7 linked regions of the Homo sapiens genome follow. The protein of the gene in region 5 interacts with the protein of the main gene of each other region in a pairwise test. Each region holds a gene or a part of one and is shown on either strand. Other genes may lie near its edges. The genes, in order: FDCSP, C3orf52, CYBC1, RAET1L, MFF, TMEM97 and PLLP.

Region 1 (4,203 bases), on a different chromosome or scaffold from region 5:
GATAAAAGAAATTGAAGTAGAATAAATTGAACGACAGGTTTTAGGTAAGGAAATGGATAATACACACACACACACACACACACACACACACACACACACACACCTGTCATCCCCATCCCTGGGGAAATGTACTATGAGCCCCAAATTGGTCAAAATATGTACAATAACATAACAGGTTTAATATATTAAGTTTCTGATTCAGGCAGTTTTCTTTAAATCATTGAGATAAGATTAAACGTTGAGTTATAGGTGAAGGAAGTAGTTTAATGTTTCTCTGGCTTTGTGCTGATTTTTCTAACCTTCTGTTAACAGTGACAGTATAAGGCACCAGTTATAAATGTGGGTTTTAGAACCAAATTGCTGGTGCTCAATTCAATATCTGCCAGAGACTAGCTGTAATACCCAGACTGATTACTAATATTCTCTGCTTCTCAGTCTCAAAATGGGATGGTGTTGATCATAGTACTTTCCTCTTAAGGTGGTTGTTTGGGAGATTTAATTATATTATATATATAAAGCATTTAAATTTGTGCTTCAGCACTTAAAGTCCTCAAAAAAACTTACCTGCTATTATTTTTCTGAGTTGCCTTGAGAACTGAATTCTAGAAAAAATAAAAAGAAGAAAAGGGACTTTGATGCACTACTACTACAATCTGGACTATATAACCTCTTTTGAAGTAGAAATCGAACTCAATAACAGAATATTCTTAAAAGCTCTCGAATTAGTTAAAGCTCAAATTTTATGACTCTTGAAAAAGGCATATACAATATGCACGCATATTTAAGGTAATTCTTGAATGTTTTGTGGGCCCTAGTTTCTGTTCCCGCACTTAATAATGATACCTTTTCTGCTGTAAGTGAATTTTTAGTTGAGAAATAGAGTATAGTGTTCCATAAGGTAAACAAGATGCTGTGGTGCTCCAAAAATACAATTCACTCATCTACGAAGCTCTAATCCTGATAATAAAATGAAGAAGTTGAAAGAAGAATCATGCAAAAGATTTTAATCCCATCTTAAACAATTTTTAGATTTTTTATTTTCTTAAGATTCCAGCACTATCAAATATGCTTTGCAATAGGTTATAATCAATACCAGTAAAATGCTTAGAGGTATTTTAAATTGTGGGAAGTAAAGGAAAAAATTGTGAGAGTAGACAATGGAGCAACAACATGTAAAGTGATAAACTTCAAATATACAAGACACAAAATTTGGAGAAAAAAACCACAAAAGATTTTGGTATTTGGTAGTTTCTAGGAAACTAAACATTGGTTATTCCCCAATTTCAACATATTGAGATAGTTGATGAGTAATAACTGATCCTAGGGGAGAGGCCTTTAAGCCACAGATTTCTCCATTCCATTATACCTTTGAGTATATAAAACAGCTACAATATTCCAGGGCCAGTCACTTGCCATTTCTCATAACAGCGTCAGAGAGAAAGAACTGACTGAAACGTTTGAGGTAAGAAAGGTCTTAAATATCATTGTAAACTAAGATTGTATATCTATTTTGTAAATATAGATATATAGCATCTCTCCATATATTTTTCTTTAAATCATAAAAATTTTAATTGTTGAGACTAAATTGTAATGGTTGCTTGAATTTGTAGACTTAGTAATTAGAAAACCATTTTTAGTATTCTGTTTGCAAAACTTTTTTTAAAATCACCACCCTGCTGTAGTAAATATTTATTTTAGAGTGACCATAAATGAATCTTTCTAGGAGTGGAGCACTGGTGGGGGAGAGTGTGGACAGAGTGAAACAACAGAGCCTCAGGTTTATTTTTAAATTTGTGGCCATCAGGTCAGCAAACAGAGGGAATACGCCCCGCCAGAGATTCTCTAAAGTCTGAGCAAGTGCCAATTTCTTTGGCCTCCTCTTTTATCTTTAAAATATATACAGTACTTACATTCCATTCCATAACATTTTATGTTGATTTTAATATAAAAGTCATTTGTCTTTCCCATAAACTCTTGAATAAAATTAATTATCTAGGAAGATGCATCTGATTTATCTGGAGAATCATTTATTCTACAGCACGCAGCAATAAACTGCTATGGGTATCATGACTTGATAAGTATAAAAATAAAAGGAGATAGCTGGTAATTATGCTGTGTCCTGACTCTAAGATATGATCTGGAAGAGTCTGTAATGTGGATTATTTACTTATTTGCTTAATGTAGTTTTGAATAATTCTTGAAACCAGTTGAAAGAAATTATATTGTAAAGGCCCTGCTTGAATTCTATTCTCTCCAAAACTATTTTCTCAACCTGCCTCTTTCTTCTTCTAAATACTCAAAATATTTTGCAATTTCTACATATGGTATATATCACGCTTTTTTTTCACATTACAGAAATATCTGTATCCATCTTCCATGTGGAAGTCTCAAGTGGAAGAAATTATGCTTTATCATTGTATCCCTGAAAGCACCCAGCATTGTTGCTTTGCACATAGAAAGTGGACTATGTATATGTATGTGTGTGTCTGTGAGGAGTATGTGTGAGTGTGTGCATGTGTGTGTTTGTATAATTTTTACTCTTGATTTCCTACATTAACAATCTGCCTGTAGAAGTCTGAACTTGACCGGAATTTTACATTCCTGTCTTCTCAAAATTATTAGATTATCTGGTACTTTTTTGAATTTGAATTCAAATTTTGATTAGTATCAGAAAATAAAGGCAGAGATCAAAACTTTGCTACATTTTTTACACTGCGTTCTTTTGTCTCATAGATGTATAGGAAACATCAAAAGGTGATAAAATTTCCCTAGAATCTCCACTATCTCAAAGGTACTTCAAAATGATAATGATATTAAAAATTGACATTTTCCCCAATGTAAAATATTAAATTAAATAGTCTTTAAAAAGCTTTGTAATGTATTTACTTATAACAATGTAACAGTGAGCTTAAAAGATCCATAAATCAGGGACTTTCCAAACTGATATTACAGGCAAACTTCAGAGATACTGCAGGTTCAGTTCTTGACCACCACCATAGAATGAGTATCAAAGTTAGGCAGGTCAAATGAATTTCTTGGATTCCCAGTGTACATAAAAGTTATGATTACACTACAGCATTGTATGTTAAGTGTAATAGCAGTATGTCTAGAAAAACAACATACATATCTTAATTAAAACATACTTTATTGCTCAAAAATGCTAACAATTATCTCAGTCTTCACTGAGTCATAATCTTTTTGCTGGTGTAGGGTCTTGCCTTGATGTTGATGGCTGCTGAATGATCAGGGTGATGGTTCCTGAAGGCTAAGCTGGCTGTGGCAATTTCTTAAAATAAGTCAACAATGAAGTTTGACACACAGATTGACTCTTCCTTTCACAAAAGATTTCTCTGTAGCATGCGATGTTGTAGCATTTTGGAGCATGTGAAGCATTTTGCCCACAGTATTTCTTTCAAAATGGGACTCAACCCTTGCAAACCCTGCCACTGCTTTATCAATTAAGTTTATGTAGTATTTTAAATCATTTACTGTCATTTGAAAAATATTCACAGCATCTTCACCAGGAGTAGATTCCATCTCAAGAAACCACTTTCTTTGCTCATCCATAAGAAGCCATTTTTCATTCATTCAAGTTTTACCGTTAGATTGAAGCAATTAAGTCACATGTTCAAGCTTCACTTCTAATTCTAGTTCTCTTGCTATTTCCACCACATCTGCAAGTTACTTCCTCCACTGAAGTCTTGAATCCCTCAAAGTCATCCACAAGAGTTGGAATCAACTTCTCCCAAACTCCTGTAATGTTGATATTTTGGCCTCCTCCTATGAATCACAAATGGTCTTAATGGCATCTGGAGTGGTGTATATTTTACAGAAGGTTTTTAATTTACTTTGCCCAGATCCATCAAATAAATCACTATCTGTGCCAGCTATAGCCTTACAAAATGTATTTATTTAATAATGAAACCTGAAAGTCAAATTTACTCTTTGATCCATAGGCTGCAGAATGGATGTTGTGTTAGCAGGCATGAAAACAACATTCATCTCTTTGTACATCTGCTTCAGAGTTCTTGGGGGCTCAGGTACATTTTCAATGAATGGCAATATTTTGAAAAAAACATTTTTTCCTAAGAAGTGAGCTGAAAATATTAGTAAACCATGCTGTGTTAGATGTACTGCCATCCAGGCTTTGTTGTTCCATCCACAGAGCACAGGAAGAGTAGATTTAGTATAATTCTTAAGGGC
Region 2 (3,500 bases), on a different chromosome or scaffold from region 5:
CTTTTCCTGTGCATACCTCTTTATGTCTTCTTTTTTTTATTTTTATTTATTTTTATTTTTTTGACAGAGTCTCACTCTGTCACTCAGGCTGGAGTGCAGTGGCGCAATCTCGGCTCACTGCAACCTCCCCTCCCGAATTCAAGAGATTCTCCTGCCTCAGCCTCCTGAGTAGCTGGGATTAGAGGCACCCACCAACACACCTGGCTAATTTTTGTATTTTTAGTTGAGACAGGGTTTCACCACGTTGGCCAGGCTAGTCTTGAACTCCTGACCTCAAGTGATCTGCCCGCCTTGGCCTCGCAAAGTGCTGGGATTACAGGCGTGAGCTACCACGCCCGGCCCCTCTTTACATCTTTAATACTAAACAAGGAGAATGTACTCCTGTATTACTTGTGCTCCTCAAAAGCAAATGCCTATACATGTATCACTCGCATCACAGCACGACCTGAGATCTATTTCTACTTCTACCCTTAGCTTATTTGAGCATTCATTGTTAAACAGAAATGGTTTACCTGGGACTGGCTTTTCCCCTCTTCTGTGTGACCCTGGTTGAATTATACCATTAATCTGGGCTTCCTTTTTCTCATTTGTAAAATAAGGGAGTTGAGCCTGTTGGTGTAAAAGACCTTCCCAGCACTGACATTCTGTGATTCTATTACAGGTTCCCTTCATGCTCTGAGGCTCTGGGAATCCCTGCTAGGTAAATGACGAAGGGTGGGGTGGGGGGATCTCTTTCCAGAGAAAGAGAGCAAAATGTAATGTTCCACACTCTTACCTGAAGTCCACTATTTCAACTGAAGTAAAATAACGACCCAGAGAGGGCGATGTACTGTACACATCTGTGAGCTAAACAAACAGAAGCAAATTAAACCACACACATTACCGACAGATCATATTACACATCACCTGACAAAGCAAAACTGCTTCTAAGGCAGAGGAGATTCCACTCCAGCCTGGAATCAACGTTATCTGGAAGCTCTGGATCAAGAATTGAGCCCACCATAAATCAAAACTCAAGTTAATGCTACTTCAAAAGAACTCCATTTATAAGGACCAAATGACTCAGTTTCTCTCAGAAGTTGCACTGGCACCCTGTGGCCTTAGTGGTGAGAATATCAGCAGCTGGAGCCCACACAGGCCTCACAGACCATAGGAAGGAGAGAAGAGAAGACCCCAAAATGGCTGCTGGACAGCAGCAGCACAGACCACTTAGCACCTGGGACATTGCTTAGCCCAGGGCTTCTTTCTCCCTTCTCCAGAGCTTCAGTGTAAAGACAAACAGCCATGCTAAGCCATGGGTCTAGCACATCCCCTGGACAAAGAGACAAAGAGGGGAACTGCAAAAATATGGAGGCTTTATTTTATGCATGAAATATTGCAAGCATCATAAAAAATAATGACACCTGTGTTTCCACTACCTAGCTTTCATGTCTTCATATTTGCTATATTGGGTTCAGCCCTTTAATTTAAGAAACAAAATAAAGCTAAAGTGACTCCTACATACTATTCAGTTCCTCCTCTCTCTCTTTCTTAATACTAACCATCATTCTGAAGCTGGCATGCATCCTTTCCTTGCATATTTTTACAAATTACTACTTATTTATGTAATCATAACAAAATATAATTTGTGTTTTTATTCAAATAAAAGGCACCATATTCTACATAATCTTCTAAAACTTGCCTTTTTTCACTCAAAATTACATTTAAGATTTACCCATAAAGTAAATCTCAATGAAAGGCATTCACCTAACTCCTGCACAGATTCCTTTAAATGAGTATACCAGCCTATCCATTCCTCTGATGATGATCACATGCACTATTCTCAATTTTCCCCATCACAACTTATGCTGAAGCAATCATCCTTAATGTCTCCATGCATCTCTTCTTGGACATGCGGGAGTTTCCAATGGGCATATGCCAAGAAAAGGAATTGTTGGGTTTAAGGGTAGGTGCATCTCCAACTTCACAAAATTGTTCTCCCTTTCCCACCCCTCCCAGCAATGTATAAATATCCATTTCCCACATCCTTACCAGCACTTAGTGTTACCAAACTTAAATTTTTACCACTCCGAGGAGTATAAAATAGTGCTTCACATTGTTTTAATTTGTACTGCCTCGCTTACTAGTGAGGTTGAACATCTTTTCATGTTTATTAACTCTTTGGGACTTTTCATCTCTGAATTTCTCACTCATTTCCTTTCCTTCTCTTGGCTTATCTGTCTTTTTCTTATCTATCTGAAGTGGTTAGTTTTATATTCTGGATACTAGTTGTTGATATTATGTTACAAGTATCTTTTCCCAGGCATTGAGTAGTTGTGTTTCAGATATCTGAATCCTAAACTAGTAGTACTAGGAACATGTGCCATCCCCAGCTACAGCCATTATGGCTTAATGACCTATTACTTTATTCAATAACAAGCAGTCGAACATACAAAAAACAGCAGTGCCCTATGGGGAGCTTACCCTGTTTCCCCTCAACTCCAAATGGAATGTCAAGGACGCTGCACTTCCACAATACACTCCCATTTAACTCAACATGTACAACCCATATCTCAAAGAGAACAAAAGATGAGAGTGCCTGCTATTTCTGCTCTTCTAATCTTGTCACTACTGTTGTGATCTTTATAAAAACCTGGCAAAACAGGCATTAATATATCTCCCCTTTTTACTGGAAAATTAAACAGCACTCCATTCCATGAGATGAAGAAAACCTGTCCCAGGTCACTGTGCTAGTAAAAGGAGAAGCCAAAATTCAATCCTACATGTTATGAACACTAAAAACCAGCTTCTTCCCATCTGACCACACTACCCAGTGAAGAAGAAATTGATATATATACAGTGAAGGAAAGTGTCTCCTGAATATCAAGGAGGAAAGAAGCTTAAAGTGACAAAAACTTTCGGAGAAAATGACTGAGTCATTGTACAGCTCTTAAGCCCCAATGCACAGGATGTTGCCGATAGGCTGACAGTCATTTAGAAAACTCGGGAACTAGGAAAGCAGCTTTCACGGGGATGCTGTGATGGAGAGGAGGATGAGGATGCTGCAGAGGAGAATCTTTTCAAGCACTAATGTCAAGCACTCATGTCTTTCTCTTCCTTTTGGATTGAGCTTCCTATGGCAAAGGTGATATTTATCCTTCCTTCCAGTCTTCTCTGCTTCCTCCTTCCCTTCTTTCCTTTATTAATCTTTAGGGCCCAGCACAGTGTTTTGCACATAACAGGCTTTCAGCAAATTTTTAAGTTAAAATTTTAAGGTAACATATGGAGTGGTCGACTAAATCATTTTTAGTGTTCACTCGAAGATTCTTTTTGATCATGCTCCTCTGCTGTACTTAGGACATATTTACATTTGGGGAGCTGTTAGTCACACTGTCCACTTTGGGCCCAAAGAAGTGAAATAGGGTGGTTCCTCAACCCTTAGTCTTGTGTCTCCCACACAATGTCTATGAGGCTTGGTGCAAACTGAGCAAGGAGCTCAGCGAATTGATTAGCTGAGTCTG
Region 3 (2,833 bases), on a different chromosome or scaffold from region 5:
TGGCTGCTGAGCCAGGGCCACCCTGCAGTTTCCCGTGGCAACTCAGGGCAGCCACCTCTTCGGGTACTGGGGCGGTCCCAATGGCTGTCAGAAAACGGCACAGCTGCCTCCCACAGCCCAGGCCAGCCCTGCAACTGCTCTCCCCAAAGCCACAGGTGACCTGGGGCCAATGCCCTGGCCAGGTCCCTGCAGGGATCCAGGAAGCAGCCTGTCAGAAGTGCAGCATTGCGGCACTAAACCCAAGACTGCCCAGCAACTCTGGTCGCCAGAATCTGTCCCCTCTGGGGCTATGCATGGGCGGCCGGACCCCGGGGCCTCTGTCTGTCTGTGCGGCAGCATCTACAGGAAACTGGTACTGACCACAGCTGGGCCAGTGCCCAGGCTCAAGGGTGGGGAGTTCCTCGGACCATCCAGCCCCTACTGCAGGCCCAGTAGAACCCACAGGAAAGCTGGAGCAGCGCCAAGGCCCGCAAGAAGCCAGGTGGCCCCACTCCAGAACGCCCACGGGCTGCCATGGCTCTCCCTGCCCCGTCCTGTGACCTGCCGCTGGGGCCAGACTGCACCTGCGGACAAGTGGCTGCCAGGCAGACGGGAGAATGCAGCTAAACAGAGGCTGCCCGAGCCCGGGTGGGCCAGACCCCTGCTCCTCAGACCCCTGCTCTGCCAGACCCCTGCTCCTCAGACCCCTGCTCCTCCCACTCTCCCCAGGGGCCAAACCTCTAAAGAACCCAGGAGGCTCTAGGACCCTGCTGAGCAGGTGAGCAGGTGGGGCGTATCCGTGGGATCCTGCTTCCAGCGGGCAGGACACAACCCTGGTCACCAAGCAGGTGAGCTTGGACCAAAGGCACTTCCAGGCCCCCCTCTAGGCCCCGTGAGTCACCCAGACGCCCAAGTGCGCCGCCTCTGTGGCCGTGTCCCATGTCCCCACGCTCCCCACGACTCACCCTGGTCGTGGCCAGCTCTGAAAAGAGTCAGCAGCTTCTTGTAGAGGCTGAACGTCTTCAAAACAACCTTCCCTGTGCTCTTGTCGAAGATGGCTTCCTGGAAACCGACATGCACTGACCACCATGAACCTCCAGGAACGGGGGCCCCGTGGCCGCTGGGGCCTCACCCCCACCCTCACCAGGGTGGACACTCAAGAAGGGGGGCTGGGGACCCTCCCAGTCAGAACCCAAACCCCTGAAGCCACAGGTGCTGCTCTGTCAGAGCCGGATATCGGCAGCCAACCCGACTCCTGTTGGGAAATGGAGAGGTGGGCAGGTGCAGCAGGCGCTTGCTCCACCCTGCAGGCAAAACAAGTGCAGGGAGGCAGTGGAACCAGCAAACGAGGGCATGGAGGTCAGAGGGCAGCACTGGGCCAGGCTGAAAGGACTCATGAGGGGCTCCGAGGTGGGAGGGCCGGCCACGGGGAAAGCTGACTCGCATCCCATTGTGGCAACTCTGGGAAGAAAGCACTTTGGTGAAGATAGTCATGGAGAGCTTCTAAGAGAAAAATGCCTTCGGGGAATTCCTTGGCCAAGAACGGTCCCAGATGAGTGCAGGGGCCATGTCCTGATGAACGGAGACCTCCAAGCAGGGACCAACGCTTCAGGACGGGGAGGCGCTAGGCCACCCAGGGCCCTTCCTCCTCCTTTCATTCCCATTGCAAAAAACCCAGGAGCTGAACAGCCCTGGACTCTGTCCCGCACCCGAGCCGGCCTTACCTCCCAGTCCTCCAAGTTCTGCACAGCCACAAACAGGCAGCCTGTGACGTAGAAGAGCTTCCAGCCCAGGCTATCTGGAGATGGGCATAGGGCGCCAGCCTGTGAGCTCCAGGGACATGCCCACGGGAGGCCCCGCCTAGCACAGCCTCCCCCAGACGCTGGCCAGAGCCCACGCTTGCAAGGACCCCCTGGGCAGCTTCCTGTGCTGCTGACCCTGCCCTGGCCACTCAGGACCCACACGCGGCACACCCCACCCAGCTCTGACCCCCAGAGTCCACGTGAGAGAGGCAGGTGGGGCGCACAGGGCCTCTGCCCGTCTGGGCAGGCCCAGTGATTGTGGCAGGGTGGGAAGTACACCTCATCCCACAGCTGGATCTTAGATCCTCAAGAGCATCTCTCCGGGAATATTTGATGACCCAAAAACACAGAAGACTTAAGAAGTGAAATGTGGCCGGGCGCAGTGGCTCACGCCTGTAATCCCAGCACTTTGGGAGGCCGAGGCGGGCGGATCACGAGGTCAGGAGATCGAGACCATCCCGGCTAAAACGGTGAAACCCCGTCTCTACTAAAAATACAAAAAATTAGCCGGGCGTAGTGGCGGGCGCCTGTAGTCCCAGCTACTTGGGAGGCTGAGGCAGGAGAATGGCGTGAACCCGGGAGGCGGAGCTTGCAGTGAGCCGAGATCCCGCCACTGCACTCCAGCCTGGGTGACAGAGCGAGACTCCGTCTCAAAAAAAAAAAAAAAAGAAGTGAAATGTGGGCTGAGCGCTGGGCAGGATGGGCGTGCGGAAGAACAGCAGCGCATGGAGGGCGCGGTGCCCGCCAGCAATCAAGGGGCAGAGGTGCCGATCCTAAAGGCCGCCCCATGGACAGTCACAAATGACAGTTTTTCCTTCTTTTCTCTGTTTTCCAAACAGCTGAGACAGTCATGGGGGGGTGGGGCGGGGGGTGCTTTACCTCCGCTGTAGTAGGCAGCAGCCAGGCCAATCGACAAGATTCCTATGAAGAGAAAGTGACTGCCTGCCTATTGATCCCGGTAAGACCCCACCTCCCTGGTGCAGCGGGACCAGGAGCCACAGCCCCTGATGAGCAGGCCCTTCCCACTGTAGGAACAGCTGTGGTCAGGGGTT
Region 4 (2,349 bases), on a different chromosome or scaffold from region 5:
CCTTTCTAGCAAGGTCATGTGTTGACTGATGTGGGCAGAGGGGCAGTGGGACATGTCTGGGGACATGTGGTTTCTCAGCAGACAGAGACTTCCTCCTCCTCCTCCTCCTTGTCCTCATGCAAGGGGCGAGCACTCGCCTTAAACTTGTAGACACCACAGTTCTGGAGGGGGCACTCCTTCCTGGGCCAGCCCAGCCTGCCAGAGGCATCCTCTTATTGACACAGCGTGGAGGGGGGCTAACTAGGGGTCTTTTCCTCCCCACCCACCCCTCACCTGCCTTTCTCCACAGACCCTCACTCTCTTTGCTATGACATCACCGTCATCCCTAAGTTCAGACCTGGACCACGGTGGTGTGCGGTTCAAGGCCAGGTGGATGAAAAGACTTTTCTTCACTATGACTGTGGCAACAAGACAGTCACACCCGTCAGTCCCCTGGGGAAGAAACTAAATGTCACAATGGCCTGGAAAGCACAGAACCCAGTACTGAGAGAGGTGGTGGACATACTTACAGAGCAACTGCTTGACATTCAGCTGGAGAATTACACACCCAAGGGTAAGTTTCAGATGGCCCAGGACAGCAGGGAGCAGATACAGTGGTAGGTTAGAGGCATTTATAGTTTTCATGTAAAAATACAAAAGGGTCCTGGGCACGGTGGCTCACGCCTGTAGTCCCAGCACTTTGTGAGGTAGAGGTGGGCCGATCACAAGGTCAGGAATTCGAGACCGCCTGACCAACATAGTGAAACACTGTCTCTACCGAAATGCAAAAATTAGCCAGGCATGGTGGCGCATGCCTGTAATCCCAGCAACTTGGGAGGCTGAGGCAGGAGGATCCCTTGAACCCGGCAGGCAGACGCTGCAGTGAGCCGAGGTGGTGCCATTGCACTCCAGCCTGGGCAACAGAGTGAGACTTTGTCTCAAAAAAAAAAAAAAAAGCCAGGTGCAGTGGCTCAAGCCTGTAATCCCAGCATTTTGGGAGGCTGAGGTAGGCGGATCACAAGGTCAAGAGATCGAGACCATCCTGGTTAACACAGTGAAACCCTGTCTGTACTAAAAATACAAAAAAATAGCCGGGTATGGTGGCGGGCGCCTGTAGTCCTAGCTACTTAGGAGGCTGAGTGAGCCGAGATCGCGCCACTGCACTCCATCCAGCCTGGGTGACAGAGCGAGACCCTTTCTCAAAAAAAAAAAAAAAAATACAAATGGGAAGGTCATCTTACCCCTCAAGAGTCTAGAGGCAAGGCCAAGATGTAGCAGAGAGAGTAAGGCCAGCAAATTGTAAGGGGAACAGGATGGGGGTGCAAAATTTGTCAAGATCAGAGCTGATCTCTCTCTGATGGGGGCAGAACCCCTCACCCTGCAGGCAAGGATGTCTTGTGAGCAGAAAGCTGAAGGACACAGCAGTGGATCTTGGCAGTTCAGTATCGATGGACAGACCTTCCTACTCTTTGACTCAGAGAAGAGAATGTGGACAACGGTTCATCCTGGAGCCAGAAAGATGAAAGAAAAGTGGGAGAATGACAAGGATGTGGCCATGTCCTTCCATTACATCTCAATGGGAGACTGCATAGGATGGCTTGAGGACTTCTTGATGGGCATGGACAGCACCCTGGAGCCAAGTGCAGGAGGTAACAGGAGAAAAAGAAACGGGGATCTTAAATGAGATCAGAAATGGGGATCTCAAGAAGTTAGTTCTTGAGTTCAGCTTCAATCATCCCAGTGTACACGTTTATGTTAAAATGACCTCCTCGTCGGGCCCTCCTCCTGGGGTTACTGGCATGCCTGTGCCCTCCCACCCTCCTCTTCCTTCTCCCTCCTGACTCCTATTCCTCACTGCACTTGCTTCTGCTCCCCACACTGTGGATTTCTCACCAGCCTTGAAACTGCAGGTGTCACTGTTTTCAGAACTTTTTCCTTAGTGTTTCCTCTTTTGAGAATCACTTTTCCTTTCCTTTCCCTGGTCTGGTTCTGGAAATCCATCAAAACCACTTCCAACACCAGCCAGAGATCCTCCCCTCCCCAACTCTGGGGCATCACCTCCTCTTCCCCCACAGCAGGAGGGTGGGGTGTGTTGTCACCTTGCTTCCCTCAGCAGCTGTGTGAGCTCCCTGAGGACAAGACACACCCCGTCTCCCTTCCTAAGCCAGGACCTGTCATACTGGCTGCCCCACACCAGGGGGGAGGGGACAAAACTTTTGCCTTCCAGGATGACCTAGGGTGGCAGGAACTGAGGAGGTGTCTCCTCAGATTTGGGGCCTGGACAAGGGTTGTCACTTTTGTGTTTCCATTTCAGCACCACTCGCCATGTCCTCAGGCACAACCCAACTCAGGGCCACAGCCACCACCCTC
Region 5 (3,500 bases):
CTTCTTCACATGTGTGTATGTCTGTGTGATACTCGAGGCTGTGGGAGTACATATTAAAAAATATGCATGTGCAACTGCAGTTCTAAGAAAGGATTTATTACAGAATACAGGAAATACGTATGCAGGGATGCTGTGCAAGCTGCAAGGAGCGGTTTCCAAAATGGAGTTATTAAACACAGTAACAAAGGTTCCAAAGTAATTGTTCCACATTTCAAAAGCCAAACAAGCAACTGATGGCTGTACTGGTTTGCTAAAGATTCTTTGTTACTGGCCAGAATTACATTAATCTATCTTGGTAATACTGTTTTACGGTGATCAAAACATGTAAATGGTAGTTTAATATATCTTTAATCAAAATGAGAAAATCAATGATGGCTTACTAGTTTGATAGTCCCACAGGAGAGAAAATAATAAAATGTTGAGAACTATCACTTTAAAATATTGTATGAATATAACTGAGAAATATATCTTATTTGGTACACTAAATACCTGTCGTCTTAGTGAAGCTGCATCTACAACAGTCAGGTCATCTGACGTTCCTTCAATGGTTGTATCTATATTTGAAATGCCATACCTGCAGATAAGAGATAGAAATACAAATGAATAGTAAAGTAGAACTCAGAGTAAATGGCACGCCACATCATGCTTTGTGTAATGCTCAAAGTAGTATTCAGAAAATTGGTACTTAATAATATGAATTACTAAAATATTTTACTACCTGAATTTGTACTAATAAAGGAAAGAAAAAAGCTTAAAATGACAACTGTCTACAATATTGAAAAAGGGCACTAAAAACTGGAGAATGGGAAAAAAATCCTGACTAAAGAAACACATAGAAAATTCTCAAGCCAGAAGGATTGGCGATGCTAAAAAGGGTCCCTGGCTGAAAAGGTTTGAGAGCTGCCACTTAGGATAGAACAAAATATAATTCTTACACAAACTTATGTCCATATGTAAGCCCATAGGCACAGACTCACTAGCAGGGAACACAAAGTAGACTAACTCTAAAAAAAGAAAGACTCATCACCTCTTCTCACTGCCTCTTGTCTTGCCATTTTTATTCTTTACTTCTTGTCTTTTTATTTTTTTGAGACAGAGTTTCACTTTTGTTGCCCAGGCTGGAGTGCAATGGCACAATCTCGGCTCATTGCAACCTCCACCTCTGGGGTTCAAGTGATTCTCCTACCTCAGCCTCCCAAGTAGCTGGAATTACAGGCACCTGCCACCATGCCCGGCTAATTTTTGTACTTTTAGTAGAGATGGGGTTTCACCATTTTGGCCAGGCTGGTCTCAAAGTCCTGACCTCAGGTGATCCACCCACCTCAGCCTCCTAAATTGCTGGGATTACAGGCCTGAGCAACCACGCCTGGCCTATTCTTTACTTATTTCCAATTACTTATGCTCTACTGTGTTCTCCCGCAGAAACAATTATAAAATCTCCTGAATACATCTTACCACTACATTTAGCTCCAGAATTGGCCCAATAATGAATAAAATGCTGTGTATAAAATAATACTGAAAAACCATTAAGACAAAATCCAGAGAAAGCATATTAAAAAAGTACTTTTTGTTCCAATGTAGTTACTTCTAAAGCGGCACTAATTTCTAGGTGAATGACACTAAACCTCTGAAAAACAAAGACAAACGCCATTCCTCTTCTTTGCCTGGATTTCCACATTTTAAAATTTAGTTTAATTAATAGCTTCATTGAGATACAACTTATATAACCACATAATTCACCTCACATGTATTTTATACCCTAAATGGTTATTTTAGTAAAATGGCATAGTAAATTTTCTAAATGAGCAGAATATAAATAAACTAAATTAAAAGTTATTCCTGTGTAGTCCAGAGAATTGGCAAATGGATCATCTATTCTAATACCTATCCCAGCAAGTCCCCACTACAAAAAGTACATACCCACAAAAAGGGATATGAAGCAGAATTATACTTTTCATCCAGACATGTTAAAGACAAGTCTACTCAGAAAATCCTTTTGTTTTAAATATTGTTAAAAGTAATAAAAATACTTTAATAAAGTATGCAAAAAACCTTAAACAATAGATGGTGTGTACTGACTCTAGATAATCTACAACCATCTCCAAATATTCCTTCTATGGCTAAATTATCCTGCTTTCTCATTAACTGTCTCCTTATTTCATGAGAACACAGTAAACAACCTGGAGCAGTTAGGGTAATTATACCAGTTAGAGAAGTAAACTTCTAAGTTAGTAGATGCTGGAACTATGGGTTTACAAATGATTAGTGGAAAAAATAAAGGTAGAAGATTCCCTTTTCCTTCACTTCATCCTCAAAATAAAACTCTTCTCTTTCTCTGAGGCCACATAACAGAGGAATAATTAGGAAAAAAATCAAACAGAAGCAATTGTTAAAGGGATCTGAACTGAACATACAGAATGAAGTACAAATGAAAGCGATTACTCACAATTTATATCCTGAATTAACTAAGGTTTAGATATCTGAAATCTCGATTTGCAAAGAAATATAAGGATATGACAAAAGATTTTACCTATATACTTCAATTTAAAACAAAAATATGTTACTTTACATTGTGTTTTAAACAAAAACCGTATTTATTAGAACTAAAAAACTCTAATGCTAAGTTAGACCACTGGCTGAAAATACTCTGACAGAAAGATAAAAGATCACAAACTTAGAGAAAAATATAAGGGAAAACGACAATGAACTGAACTAAGATTGTAAAAAGAAACAAGTCAGCAGAGTGGTAAGGGATTACCACAGGCACGCTTTTCAATTCCTCCACCATGAATTCAATTTTAATGAGCAGCTAATGCTTCCCTTTTCTCTTGCTTCAATGAATGCACCAACTTCTAAGCACAGAAACGATGCTGCCAGTTTTAAATCTACTGCTACCGACAATATATTTCTGCTTAAATAAAACTGACTGAAAAAATTATACAGTAATAGCATCTGTGAATACCAACAAGTTTTTGATTTTTTCCAGACTATAGGAAAACTAAATGGGGATTTTGGCACTTAAGAACTGCATGTATTTGTATGTGCCATTCTGCCAGCCTCTGTGCGTGTCAGGAAGAAAGGAACGCTCAACCTACGCGTGTCTGAAAGTGTAAAAAGGGCAAAAATAAGAGAGAAGGCCTTAAATCAACAGATGATAAAAATGCTTAAAACTAAATTTCCTTTCTAAATATGTACCTTCCCAAACTGTGGAGTTGTTAATGCTGATTTCTCCCAATTTAAGATGAAGCCTTACAAACAAAGACAGGTTTGTTCACACACTAAAAGTAACATTCCAGATAATTAACAACTTAAAAGGAAATGCTGGGCACAATTCAGGCAACCATTAAAATGATGTACATAAAATAAGATTTAAGACTTTTTTCTGTTTTAGCATGTAAATTATTATAAACCACCTATAAACTATTAACACTACACTTAAATAAAATAGCTGTTCACATCATACCATAATTATTAAACATTTTCCCTCATACTAATTGGCC
Region 6 (3,493 bases), on a different chromosome or scaffold from region 5:
GCTTGGAAAAACTCATTTTTTTATTTACTTTTTGTTTTTCTTTCTTTTTTTTTTTTGATTTTGTTTTTGAGACAGTCTCTTGTCGCCCAGGCTGTAGTGCAGTGGTGCAATCTCGGCTCACTGCAACCTCTGCCTCTCGGGTTCAAGCAATTCTCCTGCCTCAGCATCCCAAATAGCTGGGATTACAGGTGCTTGCCACAACGCCTGGCTAATTTTTATATTTTGTTATAGATGGTGTTTCACCATGTTGGCCAGGCTGGTCTCAAACTCCTGACCTCAAGCGATCTGCATGCCTCAGCCTCCCAAAGTGCTGGGATTACAGGTGTGAACCACCACGCCTGGCCTGGAAAAACTCTTATTTTATTATGAAACAGTAAGAATTTAGTTTGGATAAGAACATGGTAAGGAGAGGATGGGAAGCATTTTGTAGTATCATTTGCAGCTGGGTAACATTGCTTCTGGTAAAAATAAGGAAAAACAAGTGAGCATCTGGCTCTGAAATCAGTCTGTGTTCCCATTCTAAATTATAGAAGTACAAGATTGGTGAGTAGCAACCACTGGTTTAGAGATCGTGCGTGCAGGCCAGGTGAATCTTTTATGTATAACAAGGGTGGGTTGAGTCAAATAGAGTCAGGTATAAGTGGAAACAGTTTCATTACCTTTGGTAGGGAGGCCATAACTAATAATTTTTAATGACCAGTCGTGAGCTGCGATTTTAATGGGATTAAACTTGAATATCTCCAAATATGTATTAATTACATTCAATTAATCATTATGTGCTAGCCATTATTTTAAAGACTACATGTATTAAGTCACTCTCTTACCAATAGTGAAGTAGGCACTATTACTGGCTCTATTTTATTGATGGGGACACAAGTGTAGGGAGATTAAAGGCCTTGCCTAAAGCCAGGCACTCTACCCCAGGTCCTACACGCCTCACCCATCTGCCAGGTGCCTGGGCTTTCTACTCTCCTACTCACAATTAGTCCCAGCCTCATTCTGGCATCAGGTGGCAGGTATATGACTGTGGGCAGATGGTTGGTTACGATTATGATAATTCATTATTACGACATCTGGGTGATTGTTTTTTAAATTTTGCTGATCTCATCTTGTAGGCCTTAGAAATTAAAGTGCTGTACAAGTCTGCCTCAGTTTATGAAATAGTTGGATCAGAGAGGTTGTAAACAAATTGAATAGAAAGTGAAGTTCAAATGGCCAGAATGCCTTTTTTTTTTTTTAATTTTTTTTTGAGATGGAGTCTCGCTCTGTCACCCAGGCCGGAGTGCAGTGGCTCGATCTCGGCTCACTGCAACCTCAGCCTCCAGAGTTGCTAGGATTACAGGCGTGAGCCACCACACCCAGCTAATTTTTGTATTTTTAGTAGAGACGAGGTTTCACCATGTTGGCCAGGCTGGTCTCAAACTCCTGACCTCAGGTGATCCACCCGCCTTGACCTCCCAAAGTGCTGGGATTATAGGCATGAGCCACCGGGCCTGGCCCAGAATGCCTCTTAAATTTTGCAGTCAGGCCGGGTGCAGTGGCTCACACCTGTAATCCCAGCACTTTGGGAGGCTGAAGCGAGGATCGCTTGTGCCCAGGAGTTCGAAACCAGCCTGGGCAATGTGGCAAAACCCCGTCTCTACAGAAAATTAGCTGGGCTTGGTGGCGCATACCTGTAGTCCCAGCTACTGGGGAAGCTGAGGTGACAGAATCATCTGAGCCCGGGATGTTGAGGCTGCAGTGGGCCGAGATCAAATCACCACACTCCACCAGCCTGGGCAACAGAGACTGTCTCAAAAAAAATAATAATAATTTTATAGTCAATCTTTTAAAGCAGGTAGTGTCATCCAGTATTTTTAAAAATCTAAAAAGCAAAAAAGGGATCTTAAGAAAACATCTAGTCCAAGTTGCTCATTTTACAGATGAGGAAGTAGAACCCTGGAGAGGGACAGTGACTTAGCCTTTGTGTTTCTTATCAATTCAATCCTATTCAAACCACATTCCCATCCAGAAAAGTGCTTAGAAGGAAGCGAAGGGCATTGCTATGAATTTCAATTTCAAATTAAGTACAAATTTGGATATCCTTTGGTCAATAAATTGGTTATCTAGCCAAAGCCTTTCTGAAATTAATAATATGCTAACAGGATATTTGTTTCTGGATGTTTGCTTAAAGTGCTCTTGCAGCAGTGGGGCTTCTATTTCACAATAGCGAGGCTTTATCTTTTGATTAAAAATTAACAGGAAAAATATTCTTGGATTTTCCATTGTAAGTAAGATAAATTCTTACCCTGGAGTTGCCTTTATTAATCATAATATCAAGACTTATTTGTCTTTGAAGGCCTGTGTGTCAGGGCAGCGCCACATCTAGGAGGTTAAATGTGACAAACGTTTAGTAGTCCACATAGAGCCAAGAGCACTAGGCTTTGGGCTCCTATAAAAGCCCAAGATGGGAAGCCTTAAACTCTGCTTCTTTTCTCTGCCTGTAGCCAGGTCAGCATGGATCCGCATCCTTTTTATTTGACAAGGTAATTACAAGCGTGGGGCCCAAGCTAGAACTGAGACGCTAAAACCCTGCATAACCAAGAAGCTACTAGGTAGTTTGTAGTTTGGGGCAGAGTTTGTTCTTCCACTAAAATCCTGTCTCCTAAAATAAACCAAAAATTAGAATTAGGGGAGTTAAGGAACTTGTTTGTCATATTGGAATTAAAGTGTCCAAAATTACATCGCCACAGAGGTTAGATTTACTTCCCCTTTCACTCCCACCCCCACCCCGCAAAAAGAAGAGGGAAATTCAATTCATTTCTGCATTTGAGGGAATCTGGCCTTTGGAGGAGTTTGGTGTGTAGTTGCCATTACAAAAGGGAAAGTGTCAGGATGGTTTTCATGTGTATTTGTTTTTTTAAACAAAGAATGATATTGTTGACAGAAATGTCACATTTGTTCATTCAGCGAACACCCTGAGTGCCTACCAAGTGCCAGATACTTATTGTTGCTCCTGACAGTGGCCAACACACCTGGATGTGTTATCTTGGAATTATGAACAGATTCTGGGTAACACAAAGAAGGGGCTGGAAGAGTTGAGAAAATTTCAGAGAAGGGAACATTTGAGTTAGGGATAGTAAGTTTTTATTAAATGACCACCTAGGCTGTGTCACAAAAGCCAGCTGGACATGCCATCTGCTGCCGGGGTAGTGGGGGGTGGCTAATTAATGACAGGCTCCTCCAGTGTATTTTCAAATGAGCTAGCGCCGAGCCTGTTGAGGGCAAGTGGCTGTAATTCATCATGATCGTTTTCTTTTTCAGTTTAGAAACCTGCTGAAGTGGTATGCTAAGGAGTTCAAAGACCCACTGCTACAGGAGCCCCCAGCCTGGTTTAAGTCCTTTCTGTTTTGCGAGCTTGTGTTTCAGCTGCCTTTCTTTCCCATTGCAACGTATGCCTTCCTCAAAGGTTGGTAAATGGTGGGAAAATCCCATTTTTACTCAGAAATCAGGT
Region 7 (3,500 bases), on a different chromosome or scaffold from region 5:
CTACTAAAAATACAATAATGAGTTGGGTGTAGTGGCAGGCACCTGTAGTCCCAGCTATTCGGGAGGCTGAGGCAGGAGAATGGCGTGAACCCGGGAGGCGGAGGTTGCAGTGAGCTGAGATTACGCCGCTGCACTCCAGCCTGGATGACAGAGCACAAGAAGAGCTCTCAGATGCACCAAGTATGAGAAAAGCAACTTGCTGAACAAAGGATACAGAATAAAACTATCAATGTTTTCAAAAGTGCACAGGAAAAAAGACTAGAAACACCCCAAATAGTTGTCCCCTTAGGGACAGAGGTGGGTAATCCAACTACAGCTTTAGTGTAATCTGTACAGGTTTTTTTATTTTGTGAGGAGAATGTATTCATATATTCATAATGTAATTACACATTAATTCCCAAACACTCAATACTCCCCCCCTTGCAGTAAGTGGGGAGTGTGGGGGGAACTAACAATACAAGGCATTTATTGCTCTGTGCAGTGGAGCTGGGTTGGATGAAGATATTGGGCATGCGGGGCCTGGAATGCTGTACTAAAAAGACTGAACCACCCACAAATCTCAGTGCTAAGGGAAGCCCCGGGAGTCTCAGACATTGCAATCCGAGTGTGACCAAGCCCTGCTCACACCTCACTCGGACTCCAACAATCTCATCTAGGTAGCCCCTTCCTGGAGACCAGAGTTGGCTTTCAGTCCCTGCCCTGCCCTTCATCTGCAGAGGAGCTGGTCTGCCTCCTGGGGCCGGAGACAGAGCCGGTATCACCATAAGGAAGAACTTTCCAACACTCCCAAGTGCCCAAGGATGGAGCAGGCAGCCTTAAGAAGAACTGAGCTCCCTGTCTCTGGAAGCATGCAAGTTCATGTTGGAGATGCTGCAAAGGCACCTCTTATGCTTGCATAAGAACCCTCGGATCCTATAACCCTGTGAATCCAAACTGTCCTTCATTCCCACATATAGTGCTAGGCTAGCTCTTTGCAGGCATGATCTAGATCCTGCCATCACCATCTGACAGACAAGGAAGTGAGGCTCAGGGAAATTTGGGAACTCCCCCAGGATCATGCAGCCAGAAAGGGACAGAGCCAGGATTTGAACCCAAGGCTCTCAGCGTCCAGGCCTGTGTTCCCATCAGCACTCTCCATGCCACCCCATGGATCATGGAGATCTAGGGAAGGCTTCTCTTCTTCTTCTTCCTTTTTTTTTTTTTTTGTTAAGAGTAGAGGACTGGGTACAGTGGCTCACACCTGTAATCTCAGCACTTTGGGAGGCCAAGGCAGGTGGATTGCTGGAGCCCAGGAGTTCGAGACCAGTCTGGGTAACATGATGAAATCCCATCTTTACAAAAAATATAAAAACTTAGCCAGGCATTGTGGCATGTACCTGTCGTCCCAGATACTCAGGAGGCCTGAAGTGGGAGGATCGTCTGAGCCTGGGAGGTTGAGGTTGCAGTGAGCTGTGATCACACTACTATAGTCCAGCCTGGGTGACAGAGCAAGACCTTGTCTCGAGGAAAAAAAAAAAAAAGTAGGGGTCTTACTCTGTCACCCAGGCTAGAGTGCAGTGACGTGATCATGGCTTACTGCAGCCTTAAACTCCAAGGCTCAAGCAATCTTCCTACCTCAGCCTCCCAAGTAGCTGGAACTACAGGCATGTGCCACCCTGCCACCTGCCTAGCTAGGTGAGGCTTTTGATCTGTTATTCACCTGCAAAGTGGGAATTGTGTGGCCACCCCCAATCCCAGGAGGTGGGGCAAAATGGAAGGACAGAAGGTACCAAACCAAATGGCCTTACCGCCACAGGGCATTCACACAGCTTCCACATCCTGGGCCTCAAGGACGCCTACTGACTGACAGGTCTCTGTACAAGCTCTGGTCTGTCCTGATCCTCCTTCTCCCTTCCTATGCCAGGAAGCCCTCCCTGATGGCCTTGGCCCCTGATGAGTCTCCCTTCCTGCAGTCCCCCTTTTCCCCCTAGAAAGCACTCTAGAACTTCCCACCCCCAAAGTAAACAAGATGAGGAAGCATAGCTAGAGCCAGGTTTTGGATTTCCAGATCGAAGTGCAAAGCCAAGCTTGCCACTCTATCCTGTGTGACCTTGGACAAGTTCCTCACCCTCTCGGAGCCTATTTACTTATCAGTAAATCCAGATAAGATCATCCTTCTCCCCACGGCTTGGGGAGGCTTGAAAAAATGAGAGATGGGCACCTAACAGCACTACTTTATACTTATTGTAAAAAGGCTTTGGGAGCTCCCCATAAGCAAATAACCACGCCTTCTGCATTCTTCCACCTGAGCTACACAAAAATCTGTAGCACTGATGCCTTTTTTTTTTAAAACCAAAAGAGTTATCTGTAGATCAAACTTGCCTGCCTTGTGACATGAATCCATTGGCAAGAGAAAACAAAACAAAACAAAACAAAGACCTGCCTCCTTTTTTAGACGCTATCTGCATAGATTCTTCATGTTTCCCTTTTTGCCTAGGCTGCTAGGAAGTTCAACAAATAATCAACAGCCTTAAACTTGCTGCAAGTCAATTCTCCCCTCCACACCACCAGCTTTTAAAGATACATCGCTTTAACTCTTCTGTCTTATGTGGTTTAATATCATATTCCATCTGGTGTTCTTTCTGAATCTACAAGGAATAACGATAGTGATAAATCAATGAACACCACCAGACATCTGTGAAGAATACTGAGATTGGTTCTTCAGGACACATTCTGATACCGAATGAAAAGTGTATCTCCTTCTCCAGGAGCTGGGAGCCTTTCTACCCACCTCCCCTTCCTCCCACCATACCAGGAACATTCATCAAATCCTGGGAAACAGAAGGGTTTGATGGAGAATTAGCTTCCATTTTCTCATTTATTTCCTGCTCCATGCAGCCTTCTCTGATCCCTCTGGGAGAAGCACATCCTCTGGGCACCTCTCTCACTGACCAAGAGCTCCTGGAAAGCAGGCTGTGGGCCCAGGGTCCCCACCACTCCCTCCATAATGACAGATCCTGGGAAGGTAGCAGCAAAGCCACACGTGGTCATTAAGACCATAGGCCAGAAAAGTCAGAAAAATCACTCCTGTGGAGGAGGGCTGTGAGATCTTGGGCAAAGAACTGGCCTCTGAGCCTCAGTTTTCTCACCTAAAATGGGGCCGACTAAGAAGATCTAAAGGCCTTGGCAAAGGGCCTGAGCCTAGTGCTGGCCTGATAGATGGGAGCTACCATGGCTTCCCAGCAGATGGTGGTGCCTGTTGGATTAACCCCCACATATCCCATTTCAGACCCAGTGGAACTACCTGTTGCCAGAGAAACAGCTCAGGATGCAGCTTCTCCAACAAGCAGATTTTTTTTTTATTTCTTTTTTTTTTTGAGACGGAGTCTCTTTCTGTCTCCCAGGCTGGAGTGCCGTGGCGCCATCTCGGCTCACTGCAAGCTCCACCTCCCGGGTTCACGCCATTCTCCCGCCTCAGCCTCCCGAGTAGCTGGGACTGCAGGCACCCACCACCATGCCAG

Evidence for each region.
Region 1: the proteins of MFF (region 5) and FDCSP interact in binary tests that used the Homo sapiens proteins (3 or more experiments, as listed by UniProt).
Region 2: the proteins of MFF (region 5) and C3orf52 interact in binary tests that used the Homo sapiens proteins (3 or more experiments, as listed by UniProt).
Region 3: the proteins of MFF (region 5) and CYBC1 interact in binary tests that used the Homo sapiens proteins (3 or more experiments, as listed by UniProt).
Region 4: the proteins of MFF (region 5) and RAET1L interact in binary tests that used the Homo sapiens proteins (3 or more experiments, as listed by UniProt).
Region 6: the proteins of MFF (region 5) and TMEM97 interact in binary tests that used the Homo sapiens proteins (3 or more experiments, as listed by UniProt).
Region 7: the proteins of MFF (region 5) and PLLP interact in binary tests that used the Homo sapiens proteins (3 or more experiments, as listed by UniProt).

The regions. Positions count from the first base shown.
Region 1 is NC_000004.12:70,224,721-70,228,923, forward strand, and holds the start of FDCSP (follicular dendritic cell secreted peptide precursor), read left to right. Parts: upstream 1-1,403; 5' UTR 1,404-1,462; intron 1,463-4,203. UniProt on the Homo sapiens protein: Can bind to the surface of B-lymphoma cells, but not T-lymphoma cells, consistent with a function as a secreted mediator acting upon B-cells.
Region 2 is NC_000003.12:112,106,889-112,110,388, reverse strand, and holds part of C3orf52 (TPA-induced transmembrane protein), read right to left. Parts: intron 847-3,500; coding exon 776-846; intron 1-775. UniProt on the Homo sapiens protein: Has a role in LIPH-mediated synthesis of 2-acyl lysophosphatidic acid (LPA). LPA is a bioactive lipid mediator involved in different biological processes, and necessary to promote hair formation and growth.
Region 3 is NC_000017.11:82,444,920-82,447,752, forward strand, and holds part of CYBC1 (cytochrome b-245 chaperone 1), read right to left. Parts: intron 2,703-2,833; coding exon 2,661-2,702; intron 1,778-2,660; coding exon 1,704-1,777; intron 1,042-1,703; coding exon 945-1,041; intron 1-944. UniProt on the Homo sapiens protein: Functions as a chaperone necessary for a stable expression of the CYBA and CYBB subunits of the cytochrome b-245 heterodimer. Controls the phagocyte respiratory burst and is essential for innate immunity.
Region 4 is NC_000006.12:150,020,184-150,022,532, reverse strand, and holds part of RAET1L (UL16-binding protein 6 precursor), read left to right. Parts: intron 1-289; coding exon 290-553; intron 554-1,346; coding exon 1,347-1,628; intron 1,629-2,293; coding exon 2,294-2,349. UniProt on the Homo sapiens protein: Binds and activates the KLRK1/NKG2D receptor, mediating natural killer cell cytotoxicity.
Region 5 is NC_000002.12:227,352,751-227,356,250, reverse strand, and holds part of MFF (mitochondrial fission factor), read right to left. Parts: intron 575-3,500; coding exon 490-574; intron 1-489. UniProt on the Homo sapiens protein: Plays a role in mitochondrial and peroxisomal fission. Promotes the recruitment and association of the fission mediator dynamin-related protein 1 (DNM1L) to the mitochondrial surface.
Region 6 is NC_000017.11:28,322,200-28,325,692, forward strand, and holds part of TMEM97 (sigma intracellular receptor 2), read left to right. Parts: intron 1-3,303; coding exon 3,304-3,448; intron 3,449-3,493. UniProt on the Homo sapiens protein: Sigma-2 receptor which contributes to ameliorate dysfunctional cellular processes and slow degenerative progression by regulating cell functions including cholesterol biosynthesis/trafficking, membrane trafficking, autophagy, lipid membrane-bound protein trafficking, and receptor stabilization at the cell surface.
Region 7 is NC_000016.10:57,278,173-57,281,672, forward strand, and holds part of PLLP (plasmolipin), read right to left. Parts: intron 1-3,500. UniProt on the Homo sapiens protein: Main component of the myelin sheath that plays an important role in myelin membrane biogenesis and myelination. Plays an essential function in apical endocytosis. Regulates epithelial development through the regulation of apical endocytosis.